Linked DNA regions of Homo sapiens: region 1 is linked to region 2. Evidence: fine-mapped expression QTL. A gene starts in region 2. The other region holds a variant in brackets. All regions are shown on one strand. Distances are between the middles of the regions.

Evidence for each region. PIP is the estimated chance that this variant, and not a neighbour inherited with it, causes the effect.
Region 1: its variant is fine-mapped to the expression of SLC18A2 in blood mononuclear cells (TOPMed, PIP 0.97).

What each region holds. Positions count from the first base shown.
Region 1 is chr10:117,262,693-117,275,535 of GRCh38, reverse strand. It overlaps SLC18A2 (solute carrier family 18 member A2), which reads right to left. Exons shown (of 16, transcript NM_003054.6): 11 at 8,725-8,803; 12 at 8,501-8,552; 13 at 7,800-7,863; 14 at 5,346-5,465; 15 at 5,073-5,206. Among named protein-coding and RNA genes, the nearest start is that of SLC18A2-AS1, 27 kb to the right of the region's middle. The variant A/C (reference allele first, on the strand shown) is at 8,861.
Region 2 is chr10:117,233,136-117,248,967 of GRCh38, reverse strand. It overlaps SLC18A2 (solute carrier family 18 member A2), which reads right to left and starts at 7,854. Exons shown (of 16, transcript NM_003054.6): 1 at 7,748-7,854; 2 at 7,154-7,289; 3 at 4,655-4,997. The coding sequence starts at 7,274. SLC18A2-AS1 (SLC18A2 antisense RNA 1) reads left to right here and starts at 6,971. Exons shown (of 3, transcript NR_184310.1): 1 at 6,971-7,083; 2 at 7,185-7,307; 3 at 8,787-10,203.

The DNA of each region.
Region 1 (12,843 bases), 28 kb before region 2:
GGCGTCATGTGCAACTAAAATGAATTATCAGGTATGTCTTGAGTTTTTCTCCATGTGAACTACTCCCCAATATTTTTTTTGCAGTTTGCAAATCTAAATAGATTAAAATGTATCTGATGTTGGCCTATTGTAACCCATCTTGTCTGTTAGCTATTACTCCCAGCTCTTGTCCCCAGATAAGACTCGACTCAGTGCTTAACCCATTTATCATTTCCCAAGACATTATCCAGTGATCTGTGTAACATGTGAAGATAAGGACTTCCTTGACCCTCTAAGTTAGGCTGCCAGCTCAACCTGTCAGCTTCTAACTTAACTGTTTTTTATGCTGCTTGCCAAGTGAATTGATACTTGTATTCAATAAAGAGCTCAATTTTTAAAATAATGGCGGCACTAGACTTTGTACACCAGGACCGTTCTCCCCATGTAACACAAAGGTTTAACCCCCCTAACAATAAATGTCTCATCTCCCCCAGATTAATGATTCGCAAGGAAATGTAGGGGTGGAGAGATGGAGCAGGTTAAAAAATGAAATTTGAGGGCCCTGTCCTCATGTGACAACAGTGTCAACTTTGAGAAACACTGCCCTAGTTACATGGCATTATCTAAGACTACAGCACTGTCATCTGGCTGACAACAGCTGACGGGACACCTACTAGGTGTTGCATCTCAGTGCCTTTAAGGTCCTATCCCAGCATCTTAGTTACCTCCCTGCACAGGCAAGGACAGGGACTCCAGGGTCCCAGGTGGAGTGCTCACTGCTGGTTCAGTGCCCAGGGAACGCTATCCTATAGAGGCGGGAGTTGAGGTAAACTTTGAAAGATGGAAAAGGTTTGGACAGCAAGGGAGGTGGCAATGAGTAAAACATGAGTTATTTACCAAGCAGGACACTAAGTAAGCCAGCCTGGCCACCACAGAGGTCTGCTGAGGAGGCACAGTGAGATACCAGTTGGGACACCCAACTGGAATGCAGGGCATGGGGCCTCGATCCTTGCACGGCTCCCAGGCAGGCAGGTCACCTTATAAAGAACGGTCATCACTACCTTATTCCTAATTGCCTTCCATCTCTTGGCTCATCCACATTAGACCTGAATGTAGGAATATGTCATCTTAAGGACCCCAGAACCTAGGACTGGGCACATGATAGGAACGCAACAAAAAACTGCACTGCAGGAAAAGCAGTTCAGTCAGACTATTTGGCATCATGCATACTTAACTGACCAGCATTTGTCAATTCACCAAAAACATATTTATTAGCAGCCTGTTTCAGGTGAAGTTTTCCTCCTTTAAATGTTCTGTAGCCTTTAAAACCTAGCTCACTGGCTTCCAAACCTCTCTTGAAAGATCTATTGTGCAATAATTGTACTTTTTAAAAAAAAGTTATACACAAATAAGCCAGGTGGCATGTAATGTTTCAAAAGTGCCATGAAGAAAGGCATGAACAGCATCAAGCAGGTCAGTCAGGTGCCCGGGGAACAAGTAGGGCGGCCGCAGTGCAGGCAGGTAAATTAAATCTGCTCTCCACACACTGCTGTGGTGAGGAAGGTGTGTTTGACTCTCAACCAAAGAGAAAATCAATAGGAGAGGATTGGCATTTGAATTCAGAGCAAAGCCCTCTTACTGAGAGGTGAGCCCCAGCCCCTCCAAATGCCCCTTTCATGAGTTAGGATCTCCTAAGTGGTACAAACAAACCAACATGGTGGACCAAATGAAAAGTATAAGTAATACAAAGCTGGGGTAGTGAACCCATAAAAGCATTAAAAGATAAGAGTGCCAGTCTTTGAGATTTTGATGATAGGTCCTGGGCCTTCTGAGTAGGAAAGTTTTATTCTCTTTAACATAACTAGAAAAGCAATGATGGTTTTGCACCCACTATTTAAATACCTGCAAAGGGACAAATTCTATAAACAACTTAGAATATGCAGAATGTGGTCTATCTCAGCAGCCTCGGGCCACCCCATCCTTGCCCCACGCATGGCATCCAGAAAACAGAGCTATTGCTGGAAGGGCTTTATGGAACAACTATCAGAGCCATCCAGGAAAAGAAAGCTGCAATCCTCAAACCACCTAATTTCTTGTCTTGGCAACAATTAGAAACTTCAAGAGTAAAATTAAGAAGCGTGACTTGTCTTTAAAAATAATTCTTCAACCTGGAAAAAAAAATCCGCAACACAGCTCTTCTCAACTGGGAATTTTGAGAGTGAAGCGCTACCGTGTAACTGTCTTATAAGACACTTTTCCTCAAATGGTAATGTTGATATTTCCTGTATGTGCAGAGGGACTTGAGTAACAGTTTTTTTCCTCCACCTATACTGATAATGCTGATTATAAAAAACAGAAATCCAGTAAACCAAATGGAAGACAAACTCACATGCTTATAAACTAGTTCATGATTCTGTCACTTGTGATCCATGAAAACAGCATTATATCTTACAATATAAAACAGCTTAAGTCCAAACACCTTGTTATCAGGATGCTGTCTAATGGAAGAATGATTTGCTAAGGGTCGTATGCCTTCTGGCCCTCACATCCCCCAGCATTTGGCAACTGCTCATCCTGAACGCCAGCACTTGTCTGCTCTGGGGTTTCTCAACTGCATGGTCATTGATTCTTCCTCCTCCCTCACACACTGCTGTCCTGCCTGCATGCCCCCTTATCATTAGGTGCTGTCGGCCGCCACCGCTGGCTTCCTGCTCTGCTTGCACAATGAGTAGGCAGCAACTGCTGGCCACCACTCTCAAATGTCACCATTAGGCCAGTCAAATGGCATCCAATGTGATGCCTTCAATTATGGGCATCATTGATGGGCAGCGAGATGCACACCTTCTCAAGTTTTTAATGATTTATCTTGCTAGGTGCTTATTAAGGATTGTAACATCTTGCAGTGAAAGTGGCTTCCTGGAAACCTATAATTCTTACTGTTTGGCCTTTCAGGATCGTCTCTTCCACTTCCTTCAGCATTTTTTTAAAACATGAACTGAAGTATTCGTTTAAATGGGGAAAGAGGAGGGGTACTGAGGCCTGCCTTCTGCCAGTCCTTCTGCGGAACACAGTGGTAGTTGGCTGGGCAAGCACATTCTCTGCTCATCCTCTGACCTCATTCATTTCCCCAAGGCCACAGATAAGCCATCAGGCTGCCGTTCACAAACGGACATCACAACAGCCACTGATGTTTGCCGGCTTGGCAAGGGGAGCCCATTCAGGAGTTCTGGGGTCTGTATAGCAAAAGGAAACTCTCACATCACAGAGGAGGAAAAAGGGAGAAAATTCAGGTATTGCTGGACTGACGGGGGAAGCCAGAGAGTTAGATAAGCAGGAAAGAGTGGGGTGATATTGGAAATAGGAACACACTTTTTGAGCCACAGGGCCAGTCACTCTGTTGGGATTCTTTCATTTAATCCTCACAACAATCCTATGAGGTAGACGTTATCATTTCTCCATGCAACAGAGGAGGAAACCAAGACTCATAAGCCTCTACATGGTGGGGCCAGTGTGGCTCCCAGGCCCATGCTAGCCCTAACTATCTCCCAGGAGTCTTCAAACAGTTTCCTGGGCTACAGGAGCATTTGTAGGTGATTTTATACACACACACACAGACACACACAAACACATATACACACATATATACTTTTTTTGGTCAAAAACATTGAGTAACCTCCATTCAGCCTTAAACTGTTATCATGGCAACAGAATGGCAGTTTGCATTTGTGCTGAGAATTTTCTGACTCCATTTCGGCAAGGTATTATGCTAGGGTCAGCCAAGCAAAGATGCATCTGAAATTTACACACCCAAGCTGGAAAGCAGATGTCTCCTAAGAGAGGTCTGAGAAGGTGATGTGGTTTTCAGAGCTGGGGAAGCATCTAAGCAAGCGGAGGGAAGGACAAGGGGATGGCTTCTGTCTGAGTTATTTCCACAGCACCTTCCATACCTTTTCCATGAGTCAGACGGGCCATGCATTACTCAAAAGTATCTAGTTAAATCCTATTTAAAATAAAGGGCACAAGGCCAGTGCCCAGTGCTTGATATATTTTAAAATATGTGGAATGAATTAATGAATGTAAAAAACACCCAAGACAAACACAGGCTGCACATAACCTTATTTTAAGGTTTGTCTTTAAATCTCCTTTTGGGGAAAAGCATCAAAGGGCAGTTCAGGAAATGCCAAAGCATTAAGATGCATTCAGTTCCACTGTCAGAAAGACCTTCTGATGTACTTCCAAGAGAACATTACAAACAAACCTCACATCTATTCAAACACAAAAATGCATGTCCTCTTGTTCACCTCATTCATCCTTAATCCAAGACACTCTCCTTTCACCTGGACAAGTACCTATCAGCATTTGCTGTTTTAAAAACTGGCAACACCAGATAAGAAAGATGATCAGAAACACTGAGCGTCTCCTTGCTGGGTAAGGTAAATACCTTAGAAAGGTTAAAATGACTCATGCATTTCAAAATTCAAATTTTGAATCAATTAATTTGGACTTTTTCAAAAGAGGGATGCTTTATACTCTGTATCTTGCCTATGGCTATAATTTTGGTCATAAAGTTATGAATTAAATCGTTCTGTGTGTTCACATATACCCCAAAGTCCATATACAATGATTTTTCCATAAAAATCGTAAAATCATCTCTAAAATCCTACATACAGTAAAGACAAGACAGCAACTATTACTGAATGCTGTAAGGGTTATGAGAAAAGCAACAGCACCACAAATGGCTAACCTTGGGCATAAGTACAGGAGGCAGAAAGATTGTGTCCAAGATTTTCAAGAACCATAGAAAATCAAATTGAATGATTCCAGGTTTATACTTGGTCGACAAAAGAGCAACACTGATGCTAATCTATGTACAAAAATAATTTCATTCTCCCAGTTTATAAACATAAGCTTGAAAGAAATAACTTTCACAGTAATAAAAAAATAAAAGAAGTAACTGCTCTATGTGGTACAAACTAAAAAGGAATTCTCACCATTTATGTTTGAAGGCTTTAGAATGAAACCATGAGGAAGCTATCAGGAAGGCCATGCTAAAATTATCAAGAAATGCTCACTGCATCCTAAATTTTTCTTACCATTTTTTCTTCTTTGGCAGGTGGACTTCGAAGAAAAAAGCAGAGAGGGGCAAAAAGAATATCAATTATCCCAATAATTGTCATGAGCCATGGAAATCCAATTGCCTTTGCAATAGCACCACCAGCAGAAGGACCTTTCAGGAAACAGAGAATTAGATAAAGCTCTTCCAAATGTCTTGTAGACTGAAAGATGCAAAGATTTAAACAATTTTAGTAGACGTTATCCATTACGTATTGAGGTAAAAGGTTCTTATGAAAAGCCAATGTCCTTACCTATAGCATACCCCATACAAAATGCCACATCCGCAATGGCGTACACACTCCCATAGACGGACACGTGCCGCAGGTCTACGAGGTAGCCCATGATAGGCATCATTGACGAATCCACCATTCCTGAAGACAGTCAGGGAACACAGTGTATAGAAAACGGATGTAAACCCAAAATGGGCCGAATATCAGGGAGTGTGTCTTAAACTCACCACCCTGCCAGCTCTTCCCCTTCTGTCATCACCACCTGCAAGTCTTGGGGTGATACTAATCTTTGAGTAGAAAGAATGAAGGAAGCCTTTTCTGACCCCCAGAGGAGGTCAGGTTCCCCTCGTATACAGATGTTCTCTCACAGCATCATCTCAATTGTCATTCATTCTTCAATTCTTTGCTAAATGCCCAACTCTTCTGTTGGTTTTGTTCACCCATATCCCCAGCACTTGTACATATTAGGAAGCAGCAAGCACCATTTCAATGAAAGAAACTTTCCTCATGTGCCTGCCACTGACACATGTGGAGGGGAGGGCACCAACCTCTGAGTCCCTGCCAGTGTGTTCACAGACACTGGCTCACAGCAGCCAATCATGAGCATCCCCATTTTATAGATGAGGAAACCAATACTCAGAGAGGCGAGGCTTGACCACACTCACTGAGCCAGGGAGTCTGAGCCAGGAACTCTGAACACACACCATCTTTATGCTACCTGCTCCCCACTATTCAAGAGACGAGATTCTAATGCTGGTCGTGGTTGTTGCTGGGGTGTATGTCTGTATGTATATGTGTGTATTTATGAGTATGTATGTATATGTATATATGTATCTGTGTATGTCTATGTATATGTGTGTATGCATGTGTGTATGTGTATTATGTATATGTATATATGTATCTGTGTATGTATGTGTATATATGTGTGTACATGTGTTTGCATGTGTATGTGTCTGTGTATATGTGTTTGTGTATGTACTTGTATTTGTGTATGTGTGTGTATGTGTATGTGTGTAGGTGTGTGTGTATGTGTGTATATGTATGTGTGTATGTGTGCATATGTATGTGGGTGGGTGTTTGTATGTGTATGTGTATCTACGTGTATGTATGTATGCATATGTGTGTATGTATATTTGTGTATGTGTATGTGTTTATGTGGGGGGTGTATGTGTGTATGTGTGTGTGTATGCGTGTGTCAGTGTGTGTATGTGTGTTTGTGTGTATGAATGTGTGTGTTTGTGTATGAGTGTGTATGTGTATGTATGTGTGTGCATGTGTGTTTTAGCTTCTTTTAGTTCACACACATACACACAACACACACATACACACTCATACACACAACACACACATACATGGATACACATGCATACACACACACACACACATAAACATACATACACACACATAATTTCTGAGCAGGGCCAGATGATCTCTCGGACTCCTTGGAGTTCTGGGGCGTTCTGGTCCCCCCTATTATTCTCCACCTTGGAAACACCCATAGTCTAAGCGTGTGGCCCAGGTGTGACTGGCAGGAGGTGGGTCAGGCATGCAGGTGTGCTGAGTGGTGAGGGACAAGTGAACCAGAAAACAGCAAAGCAGGGAAGCACCAAAAGGATGCAGGCCAGGGGCCGTACAGTTAGCAACCTGCAACTCTGCCAGACCTGCAGAATGGCAAGGGGAGCCGCCAGAGGACTAGCACCCTCCCTAAAAAGATGGGCCAACCAGACAGTGGAGGACAAGGGGAGGCAAGGCAGAGGACAGGCAAACGGTCACCTGAGAAGGACCTAGAGTACCATACTGAGTTCTACCCCAGCCTCAGCAGCCTTCTACCATCTGTCCTCAGTGAAAGCCATGCTGTGCCACTGTACCACTCAAAGGTTGCGTTCCTGCTTCTACAGGGGTGGACTGAGCACTTATTTTTATCATGATCAATTGGTATATTATAAATAAGAGACAAAAGTATACCATTCACTCAAAATAGTGACAGATTTTTCCTAACATATTATCATTCTTAACATTACAAAAGCCCATCTCCTTGCCCATGGGAATTCCTGCAGCACAGGCGGTCATCAACACATTAGTCTGCTTTGTCTGTACTAAAACCTCTTCAAAATACATATGTGAAGCCTTTGCCCCCAGCCTCATGAGAAGACCTGCTCATAGGGAGGAGTCCACAAAAATGAGCTCTGTGCAAGGGATTCCTTTGTTTGCCCAGCCCCAGCAGTGGAGCATCAGTTTCCTTCTGTAAATATCAGCTTTTAAAAAATACTGGTTTTCAGGAAATAAATGACTAGTGCATAGAAGCAGGTGTCTTTACACGGAGAATCGACAGGCTGTAATTTAGCTAAGCTGCCTGCAGCCTCCTTCTAAGATTCTGGAAATTTAGGTTGAGGAACTACAGTCTACCAGAGGAAGAAGAACCCTTCCTAGTGGAAAAGCGGTTTTAAATGTAGGCACAAGGTTCGTGTGACTTACCAATTGCAAAACCAACTCCAAAGTTCGGAGCTATGAGTCCATAAATGTTTTTTGCAAATGGAATCTGTAAGAGGAAATAAACATTATGCTAAAATAACAAGAGATCCAACTCTAAATCATCTCGGAAAGTCTTGAACTTGTGTTTTCTCTGAGCGTGGTATGCCTGTTCCCTTCTGAAGAAAACAGGAGGAAGAAGGGTGGGGTTTGTGAAGAACCGGACCCTCCAAATCTTTAAAAGTCAAAGCTTGAAACGAGTTTTATGACCACCATGAAAAACTTGTCACCGGCATATGTGAAAGATCAGCCTAGTCCACCCTCAAGTTTTGACAAGAACAAGTAGGCCTCATGAGGGATGGATATTGGCCATTGGTAGAAGAGATTTTATTCTAGAAAAACATCTTGCTATTGTTTCAGGTTGGTTGTCCTGAAGTGTTTAAGACACTGTCAAGCTTAAGATGATGCAGGGGAAAAGTTAAACTGTGAAATAAAACATTTTAAATAATTTCTGACATAAAATGAAAATACACTCCTTGGAAAGTCTTGTCCAAACATTTTTAAGATGATAAAAAATTAGAATAAAATGAAAGCTGTAATAAAACATCAACAAACTCAAACGTAAAATGTTTCTTGGTGATTCTTGCCCAAAGCGCAAGTTTTATTCACAGATTGTTCCCACTTGTCAAATGCCATCTTTTACTCACACATAAAATGCTGACTCCAACAATTATCATTCCCAGAAGAGCACAAAGCCACCTACCAAAAGAAAAAGCACCATCAAGAAATGATCATTTGATTTTTTTCTAGTCCAAATTTTCAATGAAAATCAAAACAATTACTTGTAACAGCAAAGGCAGAAACAACTTAGAATTTTTTGAAAGAACTACATTATTGTAACAGAATGAGTGTTGTTTTCATATCATCTTACCTCCCCATTTTGTGTGCAAGTATCCCAAAAATATTGGTTCCAATGAGATAAGAGATACTAGCTGGCAAGAAGGCAACGCCTGTAAATTTATGAAAAGGAGACCTTATCAGTGCTGATATCAGTCATATGTTAGAAA[A/C]AGTAATAACTGTAGACACCACAATGTTGATGAGAGCAGATAAAACGAAGCCCCGGGGCCCACACCCCAGCAGCTAATATCCGGCGCCTGCCGGATCCGGTCTGGACCCACGTGGCTTATCCTCCACACAAAGCTGCTGAGACACTCCAGAAATGAAAGTCCTTTCTCTATCAACTGCTTCATCTTGCCTCCATCTCTGGCTGGTGGTGGGCTTCACACGTGGGCCAATACAAACAGCTCCTGCCTGGGAGCTCAGCACCTGCAATCTTATGTGTGATTTCATCCGACAGAAGTAAGACGCAGTCATTGAAAGAATTAGGGAACCGTGAGATAAACAAAAAGAAAAATGTTAAAATTACCCCAAACCCCATCCATTACTCAGATAATCACCACAGTTATTTTCTCCTGTAAGTTTATTTACATATATAAATATATTTATGTGTGTTTTGATTTACAAAAAAAAGGGATTATACTCTATCCTGCTTGTTTCAGTTAGCTTTATGAACATTTTTCTATGTCAGAAACATAAATGTCTGCCTGGTCATTTTTTGTTGTCAAGTCAGATTTTTTTTTTTTTTTTTTTTTTGAGATGGAGTCTCGCTCTGTCACCCAGGCTGGAGTGCAGCGGCACGATCTTGGCTCACTGCAACCTCTGCCTCCCAGGTTCAAGTGATTCTCTTGCCTCAGCCTCCCAAGTAGCTGAGACGACAGGCATGCGCCACCACGCCTAGTTAATTTTTGTATTTTTAGTAGAGACTGAGTTTCAACATGTTGGCCAGGCTGGGCTCAAACTCCTGACCTCAGGTGATCCGCCTGCCTCAGCCTCCCAAAGTGCTGGGATTACAGGCGTGAGCCACCACGTCCGGCCTCCTATCCAAGTTTTATTGCTGTCCCCATAGAGGACACCTGCATCCCCCAGGTTCTGATGTGCCCAGGGTGATTCCCTGCTGGTGGTGGCAGCAGTGGCCTTGAACCTGTCCTCCGCATTGAACAGAAAGGCCTAACCATTATCAGACCCAGCTTGGCTACAGGGGAATTGTCCACATCAGCTGTGTCTGGTCCTCATCCATCCAAGCTGTGTGTGGTCCTCAGAACCACAGGACAATCTCTTTATGAGTGACTGCTTTTCAAACTCCTAGTGATTTTAGTATTTTTTCCTTGAAATCAGATATACCAGACTTGATTCCAAGCCTTGCCCACACATAGTAAAAGTTACTTTGTTCTCAATCAGAGGACTGCATAAGTGAGACATGCAGGTAGATATCAGATGACCGAGTGCCTGCTACACTCAAAATGCATGGGGCCTGGAGGTCCTTCTCATCCCAGCAGCTGGCCACACACTCACGGGCAAGTGTGATCTTGTCTCTTTAGGATAAAGCACGAACGTCTACCATCAAACCCAGAAACAGGCTGAGTCTTCCAACACAGCAGGGACTTCCAAATAAATGGCTCCATGAGCTAAATCCAAAACCAGATCATTCTAGACATGGGAGTTCTGGGAAACACTAATAAAGAGCAATCTCATTTCATTTTCCAGAGAATTATTTCTGTCATGCTTAGCAATATGTGGTGGTCAAATAATTGTTCAGTGTAATCTGATTGAGCAAACATTTACTGACAGCCACGTGCCCAGCACAGCAGTGGCCTGCAGCAAAGACAATGACAACGTGATTCTTGTCCTGACGCAAGTGTTTTGAAGGAAAGGAGCAGATGACGTTTAAACTGTGACCTGGCCAAGTAAGGAACATAACAAAAACACAGGTGTCATGCTCTGGGGACCTGGAACTGCGTCTGGCCAAGCTCCACAGAGCAGATGGTATATAAACCTGGCCTCAAAAGCTGTGTCGTAGGACTTCCTACCAGCTCTAGGGACTGTTAGTCCGGATAGTAAGATATCATGACAACATTTGTCTCATGATAAGAATCCCCAAAGGCCAGGTAGGTATAAATGAATAAAACAAGCAAATTGCAAGCAGAAATAACAGTGCAGATACCATGATAAAGAACCACTGACATTCAGCCTCAGTGTCAGAGAAATAAAATGAAAAATGGAGCAAAGAGAGATCTGTGGTGACCCAGAGGGCCCAGACTCCATCTAGAAGGCAGACGCCACTCTCTGTGGCCATTCACTCCCCTGAGGGACTGCAGTTCCAGTATTGGAAGATCCTGTTTGTTTTTTGAGGTGGAGTCTCAATAGAGGCAGAATGTCAGTGGCTCTGTTGCCCAGGCTGGAGTGCAATGGCACGATCTCGGCTTAGTGCAACCTCTGCCTCTTGGGCTCAAGTGATCCACCTGCCTCAGCCTCCCAAAGTGCTAGGATTACAGGCATGAGCCACGCACCCAGCCTCAGCAAGAATTCTTTCTAGGGCTTCTCCCGACTCTGAGAAAAGTGTTGGCTGGGACTGGCCTGCAACAGTGCCCTGGGCCATGGCAGGAACCCTCCCTTCTGCGGGGCAACACTCTTCACATATCTCTGCTCACACCAGAAAGTTCACCAAAGGGAGATCTTCTACATTTTGGTACAATCTGGCTTCAGCCACGGCCTTGGCCAGCCAGTGAGAGAGGGGCTCCGGTCATCACGAAGCCTGCGGGGAGATGAGCTGGCCATCCAGCCCCGGAAGCAAAGGTGGAAATGAGACCTTGGGTTTCCTCCAAGCTCAAGATGACCCCTCCCTGAAGGCCAAGGGCTCGGCCTAGAACCAGAATAGGGGCAATGGTCTGCCCTGTCCTATGGCAGGCTTAGGAGGATCCTAAGTCCTCGCACCCCAGAGCCACAGAAGGCTGGCAGTCCCTCTTGTCTTCTGGTACAGGCCCGTGTCCTACCCTCCATCCCACTTTGCATCCCCACAGCTCATTAAATACAAAGGGGCTAGAAGAACCAGAAGACAAGAGTGTGCCTCCATCCTTGTCTGGGGCCTGTTGTCCAGGGCTTCAGTTTCCCTTTGGGGGCTTGTAGGCCTCACCCCAAACTGTAAGTCCCTAAGTCTCAAGGGGTCTGGAGAGGCCATCTGACCTAGAACTCAGATATAGAGAAAACACCATGAAATCATTCTTTCTCCACCCACTCAAGCCCAGGGCTTCCCCTCAAGTGGCAGATGAGGAATTTGGGGGGCAGGCTGGCAAGGGAGCGACGTGGAAGATGGGTAGGCTGCCATCTTTACTACCCCTAAAAAATGTGGCCAAAAACAATGCCTTCAGCAAGAGCAATCCTGTGTCACCCATGCAGCTAATAAGATTGTTTGCCCTGACTTCAAATATCATAGTCTTTCTCCAGAAACAGTGAAGGGAAGCATAAAGGCAGAACAGCCTCCCTTTCACCCTGGACTGGAGCGAGCTCAGAGAAGATTCCTGAACACCAGAGTCTGGGCTGCAGGGGCAGCTCCCCGCCCTCAGCACTGGGTCCTCCGCACTGCTTCACTCACAGTACCCCATCCCCAGGGTCAGGGAGCCATGGGCTGAAAGCTACAGAGAACTAGGGAAGGTGGGGTATTTCCCCTCCTGCTGGTGCTGACACAGGAGGCAGGTAGAGAAACCTGATTCTCTTAAAGACAGACATGTCTATCTCTGGGGCAAATGAAAGGAGGAACCTCGGTGGTGGAAATGTGCAGCAAGCGGGTTGAGTGAACGTCTGGCGCCGGTGATAGGCCCCACACAGCAATCTGATGAGATCCAGGCAGCCTGCACTCTGCTATCTGCCCCTGATGGCCCATGGCTTCTGGCTGACTTTAAAGATTTTATAAAGAAAGCCTCAGGCTTTGTCTGAAGAGGATGAGCACAAAACATCTTAAGTGTCCTGCACATGGCCAGGACACATTCAAAGAGGATGAGAGTTCAGCTAGGTGGCCGGGAGACCCAGTTCACGCCTGTAATCCCAATACTTTGAGAGGCTGAGGCAGGAGGACAGCTTGAGCCCAGGAGGTTGAGGCTACAGTGAGCCATGATTACACCAGAGCACTCCAGCCTGGGCAACAGGACGAGACCCT
Region 2 (15,832 bases):
TCAAATATACTAAGTAACTATGGAAATAAATTAAGCCATTGACGCTGGCTTGATAAAAAGCAGATCACTGAGACAATGACAAGCTAAGAAGGAAGCAAGGGAAACGGTCCCCAGCAATGAAGTTAACTCTTTCCCAAGCCAGTCGTTTGGTGTGGAATATCTTTTGGTTCTGAAGATGCAACTATTATTTCAACCTTATGCTAAGCAAGACCACAATGCCATATCGTTACCTGACTGAGGGAAGAGAGAAATGTAAACGTGTTGTCCCATTGTTCATGTGCCTGGAACTTTCCTCTTATGGACATATATATCTAAAATTTGCTTCTTAGACCAAATGATGACCAAGTATCACTAGTATAATTTCTGGTACCACCTGCACACAACTGCAATCATGAAATGAATAGTTCAGCCAAAATTATAAAATAGGAGGCAAGAGGTTCCAACATGGAAATCAGGTCAATCCAGCAACCTCAGGCTTTCTTGGAAAGTGTGCTATTGGCCAGGTCATCACTACACACACCCAAATCAAAGGTTTTTGCCACCTAACTGGTCATATATTTTCAGCAGAAATACAGGATCTGAATAACAAATGAAACAGGAAGAATGTGCATCCTATTAGCAGTTAAATGAACCCAAGAATTGTTACTCTATATTTTCAGGGTTTGGTGTGAGAACTTATCGAATATTTAAAAAAAACAGACAGGGCCGGGCATGGTGGCTCACGCCTGTAATCCCAGCACTTTGAGAGGCTGAGGCAGGAGGATCACTTGAGGTCAGGAGTTCGAGATCAGCCTGGCCAAATGCTGAAACCCCATCTCTACTAAAATACAAAAAAAATTAGCCAGGCATGGTGGCATGTAGTCTCAGCTACTCAGGAGGCTGAGGCAGGAGAATTGCTTGAACCTGGGAGGTAGAGGTTGCAGTGAGCCGAGATAGCCCCACTGCACTCCAGCCTGGGCAATAGAGCAAGACCCTGTCTAAATAAATAAATAAATAAACAGGCGGCCTACATTTTGTGACTCCTACCCACAAAAGCCACACACATGGCACCATCACGACTGTGAATAGAGGATTCCAGTTATGGTGTGGTGTGGTGTAGAATGTCTCGATTCAGAGTGGGTCCCACTTCAGTTAAAACAAGCAGCTTTGGAAAAGAATAGCTCTGCCCAGCCTGACTACAGGAAGCTTTCCCCACACATCTTTAGGGATGCACGAGGCTGGACCAGTTCACATCAGGGACTGGAAAAAGACTGAATATTTCAGGGACCAGGGAGGTTCCATGTCCACAGGAATCAGGCTGATCTTTTCTAAACTCTCTGCTCATTGATTAAAAGTAGCAAAATCAGCAACTCACTGGGTCTCCAGCAGTTCTGCCTGGTACAACCAGGAAGAGCCCAAGTCAGTGCAAGAAAGACAGATTTTGAGCTGCATTCTTTATTTCTAGTAGCTAAAGGTACAAGCTGTATAATTGTAAGCAGGTGGGAAGAACAGGAAGCGGGGAAGAACAAAGCTTGAAATGGGACAGTCGGAACATGTGGCTACAGTCCTGCCACTGTTGTGGTAAATGCTTTCTCCTCCTGAACTGCAAACTCCTTTGCCTATAAAATGCTAGGACTGGCCCAAAAGCTTTCAGGAAAAGTCTCTGCAAGCTCTGATGCTCCATATTTTTAACTACTCTTTAATCAGAAACATATTAACCAATTTTAAAAAGCCTTTAAACACATTTGTTTACAACACTGAAGACTTGAGTCATACATCTTGCTCATGGAGGATGTGATTGGCACAGTTTACATCAAAAGACTGTTTGCAATGGCTCACAAGTTAACTCCTTGAAGACAATTAAAGGCAAATGGAATGCACATTTGTCCCTTCTCTGAATCCATCTGAACTGCGGTGGGAAGCAGAATCTTGGAGTGTCCAGAAGAGCTGCCCAGTCCCCAAATTCATATCTACTGGGCTTGGAAATTATGAGACAAATTACAAATCAGGATCACAATATGAAAATTTATTTGCTCGCTGAGGGCGGTGGCTCACGCCTGTAATCCCAGCACTTTGGGAGGCCGAGGTGGGCAGATCACCTGAGGTCAGGAGTTCGACACCAGCTTGGCCAACATGGTGAAACCTCGTCTCTACCAAAAAATACAAAAAATAGCCAGGCATAGTGGTGCACGCCTGTAATCCCAGCTACTGAGGAGACTGAGACATGTGAATTGCTTGAACCCAGGAGGTGGAGGTTGCAGTGAGCCAAGATCACACTGCTGCACTCCAGCCTGGGTGACAGAGCAAGACTCTATCTCAAAAAAAAAGAAAAAAAAATTTGTTTGTCCTTCCATATTACCAGGCAGCACTAGAAAATCATTTTCAAATTTGCTCGGTAGCTGGACAAAACAGTTGGGGATTACAATTTTGCTCTAGATAATTTCTAAAGTGGATTACTCACCATGAGAATAGACTAAATTTCACAAGTCACAAAATGGAAGATAATGTTTTTGAAGTCCCAAACATGAGCCTGGTGTGGCTACAGCCTCAAAGCCGTTGGAGTATTTAACAGGGGAAAGAGCTCACTGGTTTTAAACAAGCCTCTTCCCCATGGCATAAGCAAAGCATTAAAAATAAGAATGGGATTTTTAAAAAAGCTTTTCATTTGCCATTTGCGTTTGGAAGATTGGAGTACTCACATCATTTCAGCCGAATTTCTAAGTATTACACTGTACGGCTAGTAACGTTCCACCCAAGTGATTGGCAAGGTATTATTACGATAATGTCCTCAATTTTCACATACAATATTTGAGCTGTTTGCTTTCTCAGAATACAAAACCCTGAGCTATTTTCTGTAATTATACCAGATGCATTTTAAGAAGCATTCTTAGTCTTGAAAAAAGGAAAGAAAACAATCCTGCAACTACTGAGGTCGGTTTGGTTTTTCTCCTGAGAACAGAGGAGTCACTGAATGTCACCTTCTTAATGGGCTCACAGTCAGCCCTTCGCTGGGTTAATTTGCTTAGCATGTTTTATGTAGCAGCCTTAGAATATTGCTCTGCACAGACTAGAGGGCTGGACATGGCTTGAGATTGTTGAAATCAATTCAATGGCACCCTTCCATCCAGAAAATTCAACTGCAGATGTTGAGAATGTGCTCCTGTCCGACTCAAGCTCCATGTGTCCAAGGCAGCTTGTGCTGGCGGAAGGCCAGATCTGCCATCCCCTCCTTGAGCCCCAGCCACCACCCCAGGCTTCCTCACCTCTCGGTGCCCCTAACCCTAGAGTCGCACAGGGCTCTGCTCTCAGAGCTTGGTTGATTTAATGCTCTGCTGCCACCTTGAAGTGTTTCATAATGTTTGAATGTGGGGCACACATTTTCATTTTGCACCGAGACCCACAAATTATGCAGCCAGTCCTGCGCCCCACTCCCCACGCCAAAGGCAGAGGAAATGTGAAGTTCTCCCTGCTCCCTGCCCACCTACCCTGCTTAAAATAGTGCTTGATTCACTCATTTCTTTTTGGCTTTGGAATTTCTAATGGCTCCCAACTGCCCCACACAGAATCCCACTCCTTTCTCAGCCCAGCACTTGGGGCCTCTTACAGCCTAGCCCAGCCCTGGTTTCCCCTGCCTCCTTAGTTCCACCCTCTCCTCGCCACCATCTCTTCCATCTCTAGTCTAGTCTTTGTTCCTGCTTCTGGGCCTGGTCTGCAGGTAGGACTCTGGGCACACCCCTCCCCACCATTTCTGGTGTTTTGTAACTTTCACCTAGGTAGCTACACTGCGCACTTGGCAGCCCACCACCAACACTTAACTGTACCAGCTCCCACTCCTTGCACTGACACCTTGGGGGCCTGCCTCCTCCTCTCAGCTGCAAGGCCCTTGTCCTGAGCTTTGAGCCCCCACGGACCAGGCAGAACTGGTCCACCTCAGCTACAGAAGAACAAACACTTCACCAACAATGGAGAAGTAAACAGTTATTCCAAACAATGTGGGTTCAAAAAAATCTAGAACAGCCTGATTCATCTGAAGCTAGTTTGGGCAGCTTGGATTATCCAGACAACAGCCTCAGTTCTCTTCCTTTCATGCACGTGGACGTGGCTACGTAGCCAGCAGAAGGGAAGAACACAGCCCATGACCTCGGCATCAACTCGGAGCTCCATCTGCGCACCAGTGCGTCCAACCTTTTCCCACACTCCCTACCTGGTATCTGTGAGAGGCTTTAACATGCCAGTTCCAAAAGAAGACACCTTGGCTCTCTACAGAGAAGTGCATGGCCTGAGGTAGGAGATAAGAGGAGGCCACATGGCTCATAAAATAGGATGACAGCCATGGTGGCTGTAGAGTTCCTGCTGCCAAGGGCGATTCTGACAAATGCACTTACGAAACCTGGCATTTAGACAGGCCAAAGTCCTCCCACTTGGTGGAAGAGGTCCTCTTTATTCTGTCTTCTTTAATATTTTCTTACTTGTTGAGCAACAGAAGGGAGAATAGAATAGGAAATTGTGGTTATCTGGGAACAGAGACATAGGGGAAGGGGACTGGGTTTTCCCCAGCTCACCCACCATGGATTTTCCAGACTCTCACCAATGAGTAAGAAGCAGAATTCCAGGAAGGACATAAGCTAGGACTGATACAAATATCAAACTCTTTGACTAAAGTAGTCTGCCCTACCTGTTGGTCAGTAGTCCTATGAAAGGGTTGGTGATGAGCTGGACGGTGGCTTTCGAGGCAAACAACAGACCAACTTGCACGTTTTCATTCAGGAGGTCTTTGTCTTCACTGGGACAGTCGGAAGGAACAGCGGACGCGTTGGTCACCATGTGCTGTGTGGCGGTCTGATGAAGTGTCAGGTCTCTGGTAGCATTCCCGGTGACCATAGTCGAGTTATCATAATAGGAGAAGATGCTCTGGAAGCTGTCTGAGATGGAGGCAGTGTGCACTGGCCTGGCCGTCTGGATTTCTGTAGCATTCTTCTCATGCTTAATGCTGTACAGATAACTTGGGATGATGGGGACTGGGGATAAGAGCAGAATGGCAAGGTGGTGATCACACTGAAACCCTCTCCAGGAAAAAAGCCAGCAAAAAACTATGGTTGTGTCGGCAGGGAGCAGTGGCTCACACCTGTAATTCCAGGACTTTGGGAAGCTGAGGCAGGTGGATCACCTGAGGTCAGGAGTTCGAGACCAGGCTGGCCAACATGGAGAAACCCTCTCTCTACTAAAAATACAAAAATTAGCTGGGCGTGGTGGCACCCACCTGTAATCCCAGCTCCTTTGGAGGCTGAGAAAGGAGGATCGCTTGAACCTGGGAGGTGGAAGTTGCAGTGAGCAAAGATTGCACCACTGCACTCCAGCCTGGGTGACAGAGTGAGACTCTGTCTCAAACAAACAAAACAACAATAACAACAACAAAACTATGGTTGTGTCAAATGCCAGAAGAGGTCCAGAGGGTGACAGGTCTACCCCAAAACAGGAGCCCTGTGCCATATGTCTATAACGACATTGGAGCAAGTTCACTTTACTTAGCTCACTAGAAAGAACCATGCCCCCAACGGCCCTGAGAACTGTCTCCTCTCAAAAGGCAGCTGCTGTGCTGAACTGACTGGTCCCAGAGATTCTGTCATTTGTGGGTTTCTTCCACATTGTTCCTTCAAGGAATATTTCAGAAAAGCAAAATGTGGCCTGACGTTAAGAGAGTGCTGACCTGGAGTCAACCAGTGCTTCTAAGAAAGAGAGGCTCAAAAGACTTTCAAATGAATGAATCAAGGAAACAGAAAACTACACTTCATTATGTGTCTTAGAAAAAAATTAACCTGCAGGAAGTAATAACTTGGAAATTCTGCAACAGGCCCACTTCATCCTTCTATTATGAGTGGGAATCTGTAATTTTTCCTACAACTTGTAAGATTTAAGAATTCCTAAGGCTTTCACAAGGAAAAAGCAAAACTGAAACAGGCCAGGCACGGTGGCTCAGGCCTGTAATCCCAGCATTTTGGGAGGTCGAGGCGGGTAGATCACCTGAGGTCAGGAGTTCAAGACCAGCCTGGCCAACATGGCAAAATCCTGTCTCTAATAAAAATACAAAAATTAGCCAGCTTTGGTGGGGCATGCCGGTAACCCAGCTACTCGGGAGGCTAATGCAGGAGAATCACTTGAACCCGGGAGGTGGAGGTTGCAGTGAGCCAAGACTGTGCCACTGCCCTCCAGCCTGGGCAACAGAGTGAGACTCCATTTCAAAAAAACAAACAAAAACCAAAATAAAAAGCAACAACAAAAAATACAAATTAAATTGTGAAACATATAATCGAAGCTGTGAGCACATGTGTCCAATGGAGCATTCGAGCCGAAGCAGAACTAATGCCGTTGGTACTGAACAGGGATGAGCTCCACGGCTCTGATAACTCCTCGAGATGAAACCTATCAGATGCTCTGAAAACTGCTGTGAGAAAACCTGCAAATGGAGAGAAAGGAAACAGCTCCCACCACTTACAGTCTAAATGAGTCGTGATTTTTTTTTCATTCATTAAAAACTGGGATTTTTTTTTTTAAGGAAATGCATGCCAAATACTTCTCTGTTAATGGGCCTAATTAAGGGACCTGGATTTCGATTATTTAATTTTTCAAAATTCCACTATAGGAAAAATAATAGAACCAAGATTGTTCAAATTGTTCTTGCAATGGTTCCTGAAATATTTCCATCTCAAGTCATTCACTAATACAGTATATCTAAATGTCTTGTTTTTGGAGTAAGGGATCGAAACTTGCTCTTTTAGGTACTACACCAAATTACTAACCTGCCTTTTCGAGTAGCCCAATAATTATTCTAACACGTAATTTTGAACTTTAGGAATTTCTCTTTTGGAACAGAAATCTTTTTCATCGCAGTGAAAGCAGGCAAGAGGATGCGGGAAATTATCAGGGGGAAACATAAGTTCTGGGTCTTATCGGATGTCACAGTTTTTGACCCGAGCATCAGGAAAGCGAAGCCACACAACGCGGCTCCTCCTAGCCCCGGCGCGGCAGCCTGGAGGGGATGTCTTTTTTGCAAAGCGAGTTCTCCAACTTTCCCGGGCCTTGGCGGAGCTCCGGGACCGCGCAGGGGTAAGTGGAGTGCCGGGGAAGGGGCGCTGGGGCTGGGGTGCCGGGGCAGGGGTGCCCTGTCCGCACGTACCCACGACAGTGAGCAGCATGTTGTCCAGCAGCAGCGCCAGGAACACGATGAACAGGATGAGCTTCCGCGAGCGGCGGCTCTCCTGCAGCCAGCGGACCAGCGCCAGCTCGCTCAGGGCCATGGCTCCGGGGCTCCGCTGCGGGCGCGGTGCGCGGTGAGGACCCAAGGCGGCCGTGGACCCCCCATTCTCCCGTCCCCCAGGCCGCGGAAGGGCGGGTCAGGGAGCCGCGCGCACCGGCATCCGGGGACACCCCCGGGCGCCCCAGCCTCGGCTCACCTGCCTCGAGCGCGTCCCCACGAGAGCCCGCGCTCCCTGGAAAGAGCGCCCGCGAGCGCCGTCGGGGACCCAATCTGGAGACCCAACCTAGAACCCCCAGGACGCTGCCCTGATCCCCGCCGCCCCCAACTGTGCCACCTCCCAAACTGCACGCTCGGCCCCGTGCACCTTGCGCCCTGCGCCCTGCGCCCCGGCTGCCCCGGGGTCCCCGCAGCCCCGCCCGCGTAGCTCTGGGGGCCTCCCTGCCTCCCTGCCTCCCCCGGGCCCGCTCCCCTCCGGCACCGCGCCCTGCGAGCAGGGAACCGGGGCCGTGTTACCTCGGGGTCGCTTGCGATGCCTGCCCGGGTCCTCCGTGCCCGCGCCAACGCCCGCACCGCAGTGGGCTCCGTCAGTCCGGGCGGCTCCGGGTCGCAGTCTCCGCCCCAGCGCCCCGCCGCCGCCGCTCAGTTTACCCCGTCCGGCTCTGACGTCACGGCCGGAGGGAGCGGGGGCGGGGGGCTGGGGCGCCCCGGCCTCCGCCCGCCCGCGCCGTCGCTGCGCAGGAGGGGCTGCCGCCTCCCTGTCCCCGCCTCGGCCGCGGCCGCGCCTCTTCCCCGGACCCAGCGCGTGGCCGAGTGCCTTGGGGACCCAGGCCTGGGGAAGAGGCAGGGGCGCAGAGGGAAAGAGGTCAGAGAGCCTGGACGAAGAGTGAAGGGCCAGGGACCAAGGCGAGGAGGCACGGACCAGGGCTTTCTTGTGGCTCCAAGTGGTGGCTCGAGCTGCTTTGAATAAATCACGTGGCTCTTTGAGCCTCAGTGTCCCTGAAATGGGCCGTGAGGACGGGAATGATGGCCGCGGGGTGAGATCGCCAGGGGTGACAGGTGCTGGGAGCCAGGGACAGGCTTCCCTTTCCTGAAGAAGCCACCCTTTGCACCCACCATCCCCTCCCCTCTCCGACCTCTGCAGCCCGATGCGGGGTGCCACTCGGAGGAGCCTTTGAGCCTTGGGCATCCTCAAGCTGGTGACTTGGAAACGGGGGGGGGAAGGGGACACTTTTCAGTGTCGCCCTATGGTGGGAGTTGGGGAGGTGAGGGTCCCAGGTCTCAGAAAGTGGGAGCAGTGGGTTTGGGCCTCTGGGGCCACCTGAGCAGGGGACCCTGGAGGCTAGGTGAGTACACCTGGCCTCAGAGAAAGGGCTAGGGGGCGGGCTGTGGGCGGGGCAGCAGGCCTAGGCCCTGTGTCCTGTACTCTCTCCCCACCATGCTGTGCCTGGGCGTCTGGGTGAGAGGTGGTTCCTAGAGCCAGGGGCCTGCGTGTGGCTGGTGCAGAGCTGTCATCCTCACTGCTAAGGGCTAAGAGCCTGCCTTTGATTTCCAGGTCCCTTTTATAAGCAAAGGAGAAACAAACAGATGCCCTCTGACATCGCTGGAGCTCTGCAGGCCCTCCGAGGGGACCGTGGGAGCAAGAGCTGTTTTCTTGAAAAGCTACCTAGAATAAATGTTACCCTGTCACAGTCTCTTAGCAGAAGAGTGGGCTTGTTTTATTAATGTTAGCTTGTTGACAGCAGGAGGCCACTGAGAACAGCAGTGTGATGTGTGGCTGCCCCCGCTCTCTCCACCTCCCTACTCCCTTGCAGAGACCCCCTGTGCTTCTCATTGCTACCCCATGTGTGAGAAGAGATGGTTGAATAGGTAAGTAGGTCAGGAACATGGGTCTCCAGGATGTCACAGGATGTGCACAACTTAAACATTAAACAGGGAGGACAGAAGGAAAACCACTTAGGAGGAGGAAGCAGATGGCAGAGAGCCGTTTAAGATGGCAGGAGGGTATCACTCAGGGAGTGCCCCAGAGTGCTTGCTCTGGAGTTTCAGAACCCAAGGATGCAGACTCTACCCCAGGGACCACATGGGGACAGAGAGGCATTATGGTAAAGGGTGCCTGCCAGGATGCCCAGGTCCCAGTCTGCTACTTCCTTGACTGGTGGCCTTGGGCTGGTTATGTATCCTCTTTGTGGCTTAGTTTCGCCATCTCTGGAATGGGGATACTCACTGGACCTACTGCAGCGTGGTTGTGAGAATTCCAGGGGAATGCATAGGCAGCTCTTAGCACAGTGCCTGGCACAAAGTGAGAGCTCCGTAAGTGCCGGCCCCTCATTCATGCGCTGAATATGTGTTGAGCTCTTACTACGTGCCAGGCACTATGGTTAATGCTGGGGAGACAGTAAAGCCTAGACAAATCCCTGCTGACATTCTGACCTGATAGCAGCATCATAGCAGTGAACACTGGAAGCCACACCAAACTCCAGCCCAGCCAGCTGGATGTAGATGGCTCCAGGGACAATGCCAGCCCGGCGTTCCCGCCTCCGGATCACTGTCACCACCCCTAGAGCACTATGGCCTATAACAGACTTTTTGTTGAAACCCCCTAAAAAATGTTTAACAATATGTTTGCCTTACACATTTTCAAGTTGGCATCTAAAATGAGTTTTTTAATCATATATTTAAATAGGGTATATTGTATTTATTGACCTTTATGTATAAAATTATTATCTCTCTCTTTTAAATATACCCAAAGGAATTTGTATAAGAATACAAAACTGCCATGTTATACTTAAGAATATAAACAAGTATCCCTTTAACAGTCAAAATATTTACATTGTGTTCTTTACCCCTTTTAAGTATGTTTCCATTCCGTTTTCCAACAGAATTGTATCCTACCCTAATGCTTTTATTGTTTAAATTCTGTATTCATCACCTATCTATTATGTGAACCACAATAAATATGTGAATATGCATTAGCTTTTTAAAATTTTCTACACGTGGACATAAAGATGGCAACAACAGACCCTGGTGGGGACTACTAAAGGGGAAAGGGAGGGAGGGGGGAAAAGGTTGAAAAACTAACTCTTGGGTACTATGCTCACTACCAGGGGGACAGGATCAGTCATACCCCACACCTCAACATCACTCAATATACCAGTGTAACAACCCTGCACATGTACCCCCTGAATCCAAAACAAAAGTTGAAAGTATAAAAAAAAGTTTAGGCACAGTGACTCATGCCTGTAATCCCAGCATTTTGGTAGGCTGAGGTGGGAGGATCTCTTGAGGCCAGGAGTTTGAGACCAGCCTGGGCAAGATAGTGAGACCCTCTACAAAAAAGTTTAAAATTTAGTTGAGCATCGTGGTACACACGTGGGGTCCCAGTTACTTGGAAGGCTGGGGTGGGAGGATCACTTGAGCCCAGGAAGTCAAGGCTGCAGTGAGCCATGATCACACCACTGCACTCTAGCCTGGGCAACAGAGCAAGACCCTGCCTCAAAAATTAATTAATGATTAATTAATAAGGCTCTAAAATTCTCTTTAGGATTATGTGATTATAACAATGATTAATGGTATTTAAGTGATCAAGACATCATACACAAATATGTATTCTGATAAATAATTATTAAACATAAAAAGGAAAATTGTCTTAAAAGTGCATTACTTAAGGGATGGATAGAGAGGGGATTTTTGGAGTCTTGCTGAAAGAGACACCAAAAGTGTCTCTGTTTGGTGCCGAGGATGTTTTTGTGCCTCAGGACACTGTATACAGGAAGGGGGTCAGACTCAGGTTAGATAGGAAGGGAGCCTTTCTTTGCCCAGGGGAAGATGGGAGACTGTGGAGAGGGGAGGCCATGCAGGAGCATGTGCATGTCCCCACCCAGGTCCATATCAGCCAGATAAGCTTTAGAATGGAAGACATGAAAATTGAGGGTCTCAAACGGCTCGGGACATCTTCATATACACTCAGTGTCCTGCCATTCCAGCCTGAAGAGCCTCCACGGCCACTTCTCAAACATCTTAGCCCTCGCCTTCCCCCTCTGGCCACAGTGGTTCCTCTCAGCATTTCTCTGCCCCAGGGCCTTTGCACATTTTCTTTCCGCTTCCTCTTCTTTTCTAGTTATTTCCTCATGGAGGAAAGCATGCTGTCCAGCATCAGACAGGCCCCTCCCTTATAAACCCTCATGAAGGTGTTACTTCTCCTTTTTACTTCACTTCCTCCTTTGAGTAACCCTCAAAGAAACATTACTTCCTCTAGAGTTACTTCCTCTCTAGAGGAAAGTAACTCTCCCTCCTCTCCCTCCACTCACTTGCACCTTTTTTAGACACTGGGGACTGAGGAGGTACAAAGGTGGTACCCGAGTTTACTTTTTCATTACATTTCAATAATTGAGAATGATAATTTCTAAATTCTATTTAGGAAGTAGCCACCTGGGACATAGCAGTTATTTGAAATAGACATTACTGGAGATGCACTAACAGTTTAAGCTGTAGACAGCATCCTAGTGGGGTCTCTTACAAGTTACATGACCTTGGTCATTCTACTTGACCTTTACATACCTGTTTCTTATCTGTCTCTCCAGCAGGATAACAGTCCCTCCCTCCAGCATAGTTATAGAGAGAAAGTGGGATGGGCCTTGCCTAGTGCCTGACATTAGGTGTTCTCTGTTACTGGAAAATGGAAACTGCTGGATACAGGGAAGGTGTAGGTGTTTCCTGGGGGAAAAATCCTCAGGTGCTCCCCCACCAGAGAACTTGGAAACAAGGACAGTACCCTCACCTCCTGGGCATTAAGCTGTGACATTCAAATAATGGGTCAGAGCAGAAACGAACAAAACCATCCCAAGAGACTCAGTGGTTCCTAGCCTAGCCCAACCTGGCGTACTAGTTATCACAGACAGGGAAGGAAGGGAGAGTAGAGTAGCCAGGCAGGAGCCAGCGAGCTGGCACAGGATTGGAACAGATAGGTCACAGAAGGGGGAGCCCAAATAGCTACCAAGCTCATGAAGAGACACTCATACGCTAGTAATCAGAGAAATGCCTATTAAAATGAGGTTGAGACACAGCCCTACACCTGGAGCACTGGCAACAATAGGAAGTTGGGTGAGACCATTTGTTGGTGAAAATATAGCTAAATGAGAGTACTTTCCTTGGGGTGCATGGGGACTGGTGCAGCCTTTCTGGAGAGCAATCAGGAACTTTTTGGTGGAATTAAGTAAGTGCCCACCCTCTGATCCAGAGTTCTCTCTCTCTCTCCCTCTCTCTCTGCCATCTTTTGTTCAAACCAAGAAGCCAGATTTAAAAGCCCCCCAGAGGCTACCCACAGAAGAGTCCCTGCACAAAGAGTTGCTCCCAGGAAGAGCCTGGGTAAATGTAGGATACATTGTACGTTTCAGGACACACCAGGGAAGTCGCTGAGACAGTTACCACTGCACTTTGTGGGAAATTCCATCCCATTTGTACATAGCCCCGGGTGGCTCCCATGGCCTGTATCCCAGTCCCCTGAATTTCCAGGGCTGGCAGCCTCAGCTGAACTTTCCCAGGAGGGCTACACCTAGACAGGATTTGTTTGCGTCATCTTCAGACTGGGTAGAGCAAGTGCCTTTTGGGCAAGACCCTCAAGAGCTCCTTGCCAACCTCCTCCTAGAAGAGCAAAGACAAGGTGCTAGTGGGAGGATTACTGCATGGCTTGAGGGAGGGTCTGCCCGCTCCCCACACCGTGGCTGGAGAGTAGGAAGTGAGAGGGCCCAGAACAGGGACCCGAAGGTAGGCTGCGGTCTCTCTCTCTCTCTCTCTCTCTCTTTCTCTGTGTGTGTGTGTGTCCTGTTTGTCTCTGAGAAATCCCTACTCAGAACCTAAGGGGCATAGATAAGGATGGTCATTGCCATGTCGTGTGCAGCAGTGGGGAACTGATGCAACCTGGGTTTCCCTCACTAGGGACGATGTAAGTGAAATGTGGAGGACGCGACTGTAGAGTACCATGGAGCCATAGAAGCTGTGCACTGCGTTGCACACATCTCCACAGGCAGATTTTAGGAGGCCTTGGGTCTTGGGAGGAGGAGGAGGGCAAGTTCTATAGCATAATTCCAGGTGGGTACATAAGAAGCAGATGGGCACCACTACATTTTTGGAGGCTTCGTCCCCATCCAAGGGTATGAATCAAGTACATCGGAATTGGATCCCCTTCTCCAGGAGGGGGCCAGGAATGGGGATCTAGGATGAAGTGGAAAAGTGGAAATAAGTGAAAAGAAACCAAGAAATGGGCACCACAGTCTGCTCAGAACTGGGCAGAGGATCAACTCACTGCTCTGTACATAAGGTACCCCACCACTGCCACCCCTGCCAAAAGGATGTGTTGGTGATAAAGAGGCTGTCACCATAGACACTTAGAAAAGGCAAACACTTTCAATGTAGCGTTGGCTGCACCGAACACACAGGCCATGCAGGGAGACGCCGCAGGGAGACGCCTCCTGGGGAGCAGGCAGGGCCATGAGCTGTCTCAAGCCAGACTGAAGGGCAGTGATAGCAGATGGAAACCTCCTTCCCCAGAAAACAATGGCAAAACATTGGAAAAGGGCAATGTCTGGCTCAAGGCAAAAGACTCTTGGATGGATTCTTTTTGTTTTGTGTGTTTTGTTTTTGCCTTTTCCCTCAAACTGTCTTTATAAACTTTTAACTGTTTAAAATTAAAATTGTAACATCATCTCGAGGGGCTCATGACATATGTAGATGCATTACTTACAACAACTGTTATTAAGGGATGGGGGTGGTTCCGGGGCTATAATGAAGCCAGATGTCCATACTTTATGTGAAGGGCCTATGATTAACTGTAAATGGACTGTGAAAAGTTAAGGATGTATGATGGAATCCTAGCACAACCACTGTCAAAAATAATGCAAAGAATAGCTAAACTGCTGACAGAAAAATTAAAACTAAATGCATTCTAAGAAAAAGTATTCAAGTCATTTTAAAAGATGGGGAAGGAGGAACAGATGAACAAAAACCAGAGGAGTCAGGCAGAAAACAAAAATAAAATGATAGAGGAAACCCAGCTAAATCAAGAATTACATTAAACATCAATGAACACTACAAGTAAAAGAAAGCAGTTGTCAGAATGGATTTTAAAAAGAGTATCAACTCTATGTTGTCTATAAGAGTCACTCTTTAAATATAAAGACACAGATCAGTTGGAAGTAAATGGATGGAAAAAAAACAATGCATGTAAACTGTAAGCGTAAGAAGGCTGAAGTGAGTGTATTAATTTCAGATAAAATAGATTTCAAAAACAAAACTTGAAAAAGAGATCTAAAAAGGAGCTTTCATTATGGGAAAAGGAGTCAATCAACAGGCAGATATAAAAGTCGTAATGCATATGCACCCAATAATAAGGCCCCAAATCTATGAAAAAAAATGGACAGAATGAAAGGGAGAAATAGATGTTTCCATAATCAAAGTGGGGAAATTGAACACCCTTTCTCAACAATTGATAGAACACCTGAACAAAAAAATCACCAGACACAGAAGATCAAAATAATAGCAGCAGCCACTTTGGCTTAATTGGTATTTATTTACACTGAACAGTAGCAGACTTCACATTCTTTTCAAGAATATATGGAAAGTCTCCGCCAAGATCTGTCTCATTCAGGTAGAGGGTTGTTTTTTCCTTGACACCAACTCAATCAGTTGTTTAGCATACAGGTAAATAATGAGACTATGATTAGAAAAAGAATGCATTTCATTCTCATGCTTTTCTGAGGTTTTCTGCGTAGGCAGCTGCAAAAGAACATTTTCTGTGTAAAATTTAACCAAATCGACTGTTCTGATTTTAAGAGGGAATGGGAAGGCAAATGTCAATTTACTTGAAGGATGCCTTGCTGACTACCAATGACATTAGGTCATAGATGCTCTAACTTAATAATTCAATCACTGAATTAACTGGCTTCATGTGGCATTATCTGTAAATGTGGGTCTCCAGGTTTGGCTATTTTAATAGAATCACTAACCTGTCTAAGGACATTTGCTGTCACTGAAGGCTGCAGAGGAGCCAGCTGGCTGTGAAGAGCAGGTTTTCATTTGCTTCATGCCTTGATCCTCCACTCTCACTTGGAATATTGCAATCCCCCTCCCACTCTACACCCATGCCTGCTCCCAGCATCCCCAGGCCTCATACAGTCTACCTTCCTCCCCAGCCAGAGACAGCGGCAAAAAACCAACATGGTCACACCACTTCCTTGTGTAAAACACGTCAACAGCCTCTCACTTGGGATAATGTTCAAAGTTTTCCATGTGGCCCAATGGGACAAGCCTGGTCCAGCCCTGCCCACTCTTTCCATCTTAATTTGCCACATTTGTCCTTGCTGTCTGTTTCATATCAGATTCCCTTATGATTCTCTGGGCTCTTGCATGGCTTCAGATGTCTTTGTGTATCTCCAGGGCCCCAGAATTCCAGCCTGAGAAGCCCTGGCCTGGGAGCTCCTCGCCTCCTCTTATACCACTTGGCCATGGCCTTCCCTCTTGCCCTCCCTTTCCCCACCCAGCTACAGTGGGCTCTTTTCAGTAAGCACGCTCTGCCTCAGGGCCTTTCTGCTCTCTGTTCCTTCT